Homo sapiens: one gene and its partner. The protein of the gene in region 1 purifies or fractionates together with the protein of each later gene. This does not show direct contact. Each region holds a gene or a part of one and is shown on either strand. Other genes may lie near its edges.

Region 1 (3,613 bases):
CCACCTGTGACAGAGTTGGGTACGTGAGCCAATCCTGGTCAATTAGCATAAGTAGGCAGGAGATCCAAGTATTAATCGTTCAGTGATTTTCAGACCCTGGATTTGAGCTACTGTAAAGGGGCTTTCTTTGATAGGTTGTGAAATCTGGAGCTTCTGGTGCCCATCACGGAAGGGGTGCCTGCCTGAGAAGGAAGCCAACACAGAGGATGCAAAACTAAAAGTTGGAAAAGGGAAGATTCCTGATGACGTCGTTTGAGGGCCTGGACCCAGCCATGCCTGAGGCAGATACACCTGAGTAGTCAGTTACTTGAGCCTACAAATTCACCTTTACGTTTAAGCCCGTTTAATTAGAATTTTTGTCACTTGCAAAAGATAGCATCCTGCTAATACAGTAGTGATAAAAATAAATTTCCTTATTAATTGAGCTAATATAAAATCATTTAGTATAGAGCCTGACACATAATAGAAACTCAGCCATAATAATAGCCTTGTTTTCACAATTTTTCTTTGGTTGTATTACACACATGCACACACACACGCACTATATCACTATATATATATATAAAATTTTTTTTCCAGAGGAGAAGCAATTAAACAGTCTGAAACCAAAACTAGCAGTTAGGTGACAAGCAATTTTATTTTGCAAAACAATCACTATACAGCAACAAATACATTTGCAAATTTGATTGAAAAACATGAACTAACTACAACCAGCCATTGAAGAAATGCCTTTCTATGGTAACAGGCTCTAGAATTATCAGAAGAAAGAAACCCCCCACAGATTTGTAACAGTGTGTTGGAACCTCGGAATCCCAGCATACAGAGTATACTTTTTGTTGATTTTTTTTTCTTTTTGCTAAAGTTGAAGTAGATTTTTATGATTGACATTTTATTTTCTGAGTTTGAAAATAAGCTTTTTCCTGCAGAGAGTCTTGGCCTTCACCTACACACCCAAGCTAAAAATCCTAGGTGTAAAAAAACTCAAAACATCAATGCTTATTTTAGCACGTCAATCTTTGAAGGAATGCTTAAAATTTCCTTACCAAGCCATGAATCTACTTTATCTCTAGTATTTAGACCATGAGTAGTTTATTTTCCTTATTGTGGCTTGAAAAATAGAAGAAAACTGTAATTGCAGCTATGTCAAAATCAACCACATTCAGGTTATTTCCTTAATAAAATACTGATGGAATGTTATATATTGGCTGATTATTCCACGCTTGCTGTATTACTGTAGGTGTGTGTGTGTGTGTGTGTGTGTGTGTGTGTGGAGAAGGTCACTACAATCAGTACATTCTTCCATTTAATGGCATTCTCTCTTCAGCCTTCTCCAGCCGTACCTAGCTGGTGTTACACAGGTGTCATACTTGTAGGTGGGATGTCAGCCCATCACGCTGCTGGAACTCAGCAGGTAAATCCAGAGAGAGTTGGTTCCTAAATGAACGTGGCCTTTGAAACTCATCATGAACTCGGGTCTTTCCTGCATCATTATGAGGTATCCAATTTCTGGTTGCAAGTGACCCAGAGGTTGAGTTCACTGGAGAAGTTGGCCTTTAAACTCTTCACAGCTCTGGATTACTTACGTATTCTTATACAGGTTCTCAAAGGCTAAAGCCAGAGAGAAACTGGCATAGTAGATCTAGAATTGAGACCACGAAGATTTCATTCCTAGATCAGCGTATGTGTGTCCCCACAAGAGTGGTGCTCAAAAAGCTTAATTTGAGTCGTTATCTTGAGAGTGAAGGCAAGATAGGTTCTACCCCTTAACCCCACAAGAAGATATTTAACCTGTGTGTTTCTCTCTTTTACTGGTACAAACGATCAGTTCCTTTCTGTTAACTTTAATAAAGAATTGTATTTCCATACAAAGCAAGAACATTTATTCATTATAATTTTGTTGTGATTAGAAATAAACATTTGTTTTAATGCCAAATCTAGTAGTTTGGTGCCTTGTATAATCTTTATTTTTGACATGTATTTGTAATAAACTGACTTCTAGTATGCAGAATGTTTACCTAGTGTTAACTTATATAAAAACTTTAAAGAATGTTGAGAAAAATACTTATTTCACAGGTTAAAACTTTTCTAATGAGCTGTTAACTTCTTTCTAGAGAAATTTAATCACTATTTAAGACTATGAAAACATGTAATAAAATACCCTAAGTCTCCACACACCTTTCTTCTATTTTCTGGTGCACTTCAAGGGAAGCTGATGAATAAATTGCCCAGATTGGTCAAATCAAACCTCACAGCAATTAATAGGCAGAAAATAGATATAATGATCCTAAGGTTTCTAAGGTTTTGACTGTCATATAAAATAACTGATTTATAGATGGTTTAAGACACGTTTGCCTGTGTAAAATCTCTTAGCTGAGAATGAGTGGTGTGGGTTTGCTCCTAGGGTTTCTTGTATGGCAGTTACACTGGTTGCCATATCCACTGGGTCACCAAAAAGCACCTGTGTCTCTGCCTTTGCATCCCTTGGCTTTTGTCTTGGATGTTTCTATACTTCCCCGTTGCCTCAGTACATCCTCATCATTTCCTCCTTTATATTCAGGAACTGATTTGGCTCAAAGAGATCATACGCCTAGTGGACCATTTGATTTTAATGGTTCAGATCCAACCTACCAGCCCTGAGCAAGAAAAAGAACAGATAAAATTTTTAAAAAGTGTCCATCTAGCCTGGTAGCTCTTTGCCTTAATCAGGCCATTGACTATTTCATTCCTTATTTGTAAGTCTAAGATGAATGATTTGTGAGAGGAACTAATTGATTTGTGAGTTCTAGACTGTATATACAGTCAGAACAGTATTATCTACTGATAAATAATACTAGATCACAGTGTGTTACTTTACAGAGTGCAATGTTGGAGTCTTGGAAAAAAACTGATTTAGATATCTGTGTCTCAAGTGTTTTATAGCTATAGCTTCCCAAAGTATTGTATTTTTTCTTTCTGATCAGGGGATCTTTACTTTGGGTAAGAAAGACAAACATCTTCTATTAGAGAATTTAATAAACAGATACTATTTGGAAAAATGAGAAAACATGTTTCAAACTATTATAGTTAGTTTCAACTTTCAACTTTAGCAAATGGAAAAAAAAAGAAAAATAAAGAAAAAATCTTAAGTCGGTTTCATGAATAATAATAGGAATAAACCCCAAACTATCCTGTGATTAAAAATGAGATAAATCCATAATCTTAAACCAACAATCTGTAAACCCTTTCATGTATAACTGGACCCACCCCCACAAACTCCATGTTGGTGAAAGCAAAGAAAAATAATTTTTTGTCTAGCATCACGGGAGAGACTTGTATCTGGCACTAAAACAGGGTTACGGCTTTGAGTTGTTACAGAAAGCAACTTCATGCTAAAATTTTTTGTCTTTTTTAATGTATTTTTTTTAAATAGGGAGAGAACCCTGCTAACATCTACTTTCACATATCTAAAATTGCAACACCAAAGGGTGCAGGAGACACAGATACTGTGAATAAAGAAGTATAATATTCAAGTATATGAGGAAGTATCACAAATGGCCACAGAGAAATATATATATATTTATATCTATAATACTGTATCAAACAGATGGAAAGGGGGTGTGAAACTGGTAGTGTG
Region 2 (3,830 bases), about 38 Mb from region 1:
CCAGAAGCATTTGAGATTTTGGACTTTTTCAGATTTTAGAATACAGTAAGTCCTCACTTAACATCATTTATAGGTTCTTGGAAACTGTGACGTTAAGCAAAACAACATAAAACAAAACCAGTTTTACCACAGGCTAATTGATACAAACAAGAGTTAAATCCCTGTGGCATTTATCTGGTGATAAAAACATCATCAAATTTCTAAATAATGACCCTAAACACTTCAAATATTAAGCACTGAAATAAAATGTGAGCTATACATACAATTTAGAAAGATTATCATTACTTTTTCAGGTGGAGTTTTGCTCGTCACCCAGGCTGTAGTGCAATGGCACAATCTCGGCTTGCTGCAACCTCCTGCTGGGTTCAAGTGATTCTCCTGCCTCAGCCTCCCGAGTAGCTAGGAATACAGGTGCCCGCTACCATGCCCAGCTCATTTTTGTATTTTCAGTGAGACGGGGTTTCACCATGTTGGCTGGGCTGGTCTCAAACTCCTGACCTCAGGTGATCCACCCGCCTTGGACTCCCAAAGCGCTGAGATTACAGGCGTAAGCCACCCTGCCCGGTCACATTTGAGAAAGAATCATAAAAACAAGATAATTATTAACCCAATTTTTGGTGAAGAGGTGGTGGGTTAAATCAAGGAATAAATGTTTTGCAAAGTGAAAATTGTAAGGAGCACACCCTATCACCAGGCAGTTCTAAAACAATGACAAAGACGGAAGGCTCACTGAGCGGTTTCATACTGCATCCTTTAACTGTCTTGCCTTTGTATGATTACTATGTATCTTACAAATTTTTATTTTACGACAATTTGTATTCATTCATTCATTTTCCAACTTGCTTTTCCCAGTTCAAGGTCACAGCTGGTCAGAGCACAAGACAAGAACCCACCATGGACAGGATGCTATTCTATCGCAGGGCACACTCAGACACACCCACACTCATTCAGACTGGGACAATTTAGACATGCCAGTTGAGCAATCCTCCCACCTCAGCCTCCCAAGTAGCTAGGACCACAGGTGCGCACCACCATGCATGGCTAATTTTTAAATTTTTTGTAAACATGGGGTCTCCTTGTGTTACCCAAACTGGTCTTGAACTCCTGGGCTCAAGTAATCCTTCTGCCTCGGCCTCCTAAAGCACTGGGATTACAGGAGTGAGCCACTGAGCCCGGCCAATGTTTTTTCTTGTCAATTTTATGACAAAACACACTATTTGATGACCTGCTGTATTTGTGTTATACTTATGGTTATACATCTCTAATCCAAAAATCCATGCTCCAATGAATGTTTCCTTTGAGTGTCATGCCTGCGCTCAAAGAGTTTTGAATTCTGGAGCATTACAGATTAGGGATGCTCAGCCTGTGCTAGCTAGATTACGCATTTCTTTGCTTGTGAGCTTTGAGAATCTTCTTCTACCTTTTCCCACTGTATAAATTTCACTAGAAGAATAAAAATTCAAGAACAATCCAAGAAAGGAAAGAGATGACTTATTAAATGTATTCAGGCTCTGTCCGATCCCCATTAAGAGGTAAAAGAGAAACTAAACATTGGTAAGTGCCTATTATTTGCTGGACACTGTGTTAAGCATCTGTTTCCTTTATTAGAGTTCAGGTAAACACTATTTTTATATCTGCTAATGACAAACCTGAAAATGCTCAATTTTAAAAGGCAAGCTTTTAGAGGCAAAGTTTTCTAACCTGTTTCATTATCAGACAGAAAGGAGGCATCAAGAAAGGACAAGAATGAATAATGAGTTCATCCCAGACTTCTAAGGCCAACACTTGATAAATAACTAGGAGTTCACTAAAATAGTGAAGAACATCTCTTACATTAGGTTTTCTTACAGAAACTGAAGAACCAAAGATCTCTAAACTTTGTCTCATGATGAATTATTTAAAAAGTCAATATTTAGGATAAGGCAGATAGAAACAGAAAAAAAAACACCTTAGAATTTAATTTAAATAGAATCAGATGCTGGGTATGCATTTTCTCAGCAATAATGTTAATACCGCAGAAAAACTAGACAGCAAAGTTAAGGCACTTTAATTATAAAATGAGATTAAATGAAATTACAAGTCTATCACAGGAGGTAATGTTGCCTACTTGGATTTGTCTTGAGACTTTCAACAGGTCAAGACAATGTCACATTTATCTGGAATTGCTGGAGGATCAAGAATCATTTTATCACATGAATGGGTTTTTAAAATACTGAAGTTTATTAAAACCAAAATAAATGATTTAAACTGCTTATCATAGAATAACAAAAAATATATGCATCCATGCTTTTACACAATGCTTTCCTAAGGATTCCAGTTTACTACATATAGCCATATTATACAGGACTTATTGTAAATCAGTTTCTCTCTCTCTTTTCCCTATTTCCCATCAACTCTGTGAGCCACTGTAGTTATGAATAACCTGTTAAAAACTCTCCAAAGAGCAAATGCATAGCTTTTGTGCTGAGCTGAATGACAACTGTATGAGGTGCTATGCGAGATACTCAGGGCTTTTTTCCCAGTGCAGTTCAGGGTAAACAGTTACATGCTCGAAAAGACTGAAGTGGTGGGAAGACTGGTCCTTGATTCTGCGTAGGGTTACCATACTTGTTAGCATATTTTTATAAAAATTACAACATCTAGTAGTTCACTCATGCTCTGTGTAACTTCCTAGCAGGCTTCATCTATTAGCAAACAATTATGATTTAAAAGGTTTTCATCATTCCTATGTAGTATTAGATCACCACCTTGTGTCAGAAACCTGAGCAAATAGCAGACATCTATATTTTAGATACCTTAGTTGTCCAAAGCTTTACTGTCCAGTCAAACGATGAAGTGACAAAAAGATGTGAGAAGTCTACTGCTCCAACAGCTGCATGACAATGGATGCCAGTGATTGGTCCTTGATGCCCCTCAAACATCTCACTGATTCCAGCTTTGCTAATTTCATAAAAGTGAAAATGTTAGAGAAGTCTCCTATAAGTAGACCAATTACATACACATTTTATTATAGGTTTATATATCAGGCCTTGACTTCATTTTGACAGACTTAACTCTGTGCTCATAACTTATCAGAATTAACTTTGTTGAGTGTTATTCCATCCACATTTGGTAACTCTACTAAAGCAATAAGTACCTTTGGAACTGTAAACATCATGCTGTTGACAACAGACCTCAAAAGTCCAATATCTGAAGTGGTGTAATAGAAACAAAGATACCCTACATTTAAGAGAGACAATCTGGGCTACTTTTAAAACAAAAGCTTTGAAGTGAAGGTGATCTATATTTGAGATGAAATCTGGACACTCAATTTTTTTTTAAGGAAGCAATAAGGTACAGCTAGACAATTTCAAAACAGACAGAACGGAAGGAGAAATATTACTCAGTTTAAAATATGTATGTGACATTACTGTACAATTATCAGGAGAATGAACTAATGCTTAAAGTCCAAATAAATCAAAAGGGGAAACAGCTGAAAATCTCATTTATAAGTCTATAGGTCAATATTGGCATGTGCATATTGTATTTGTAACTACTGAATGTTCCTGCCTATCACTAACTTACGTGAGTACATGCACACACACAAAACCACAACCCACAAAATCTAAACACATCATGAATCCAAAATTATCTTTTATACAAAAAGGTATTAAGTTTTAATTTTATGTGCCTGAACACAAAAAATCTGTCACAAATAACAAGTAGATCTACGACAGATTTCTACTTAAATAAGACAATTTGTTTCAATGGGATTAAAGGAGGAATTTTAAATTATTGCAAATTCCAGTTTAGGTTTACCTGCCATGGCGGCATGCTGTGTACACAGAACC

What was found.
Region 2: the proteins of MAP2 (region 1) and DYNC1I2 fractionate together in Homo sapiens (co-fractionation; one large-scale study listed by BioGRID). This does not show direct contact.

Annotation. Positions count from the first base shown.
Region 1 is NC_000002.12:209,731,118-209,734,730, reverse strand, and holds the end of MAP2 (microtubule-associated protein 2), read right to left. Parts: 3' UTR 619-3,613; downstream 1-618. UniProt on the Homo sapiens protein: The exact function of MAP2 is unknown but MAPs may stabilize the microtubules against depolymerization. They also seem to have a stiffening effect on microtubules.
Region 2 is NC_000002.12:171,728,819-171,732,648, reverse strand, and holds part of DYNC1I2 (cytoplasmic dynein 1 intermediate chain 2), read right to left. Parts: coding exon 3,799-3,830; intron 2,941-3,798; coding exon 2,796-2,940; intron 1-2,795. UniProt on the Homo sapiens protein: Acts as one of several non-catalytic accessory components of the cytoplasmic dynein 1 complex that are thought to be involved in linking dynein to cargos and to adapter proteins that regulate dynein function.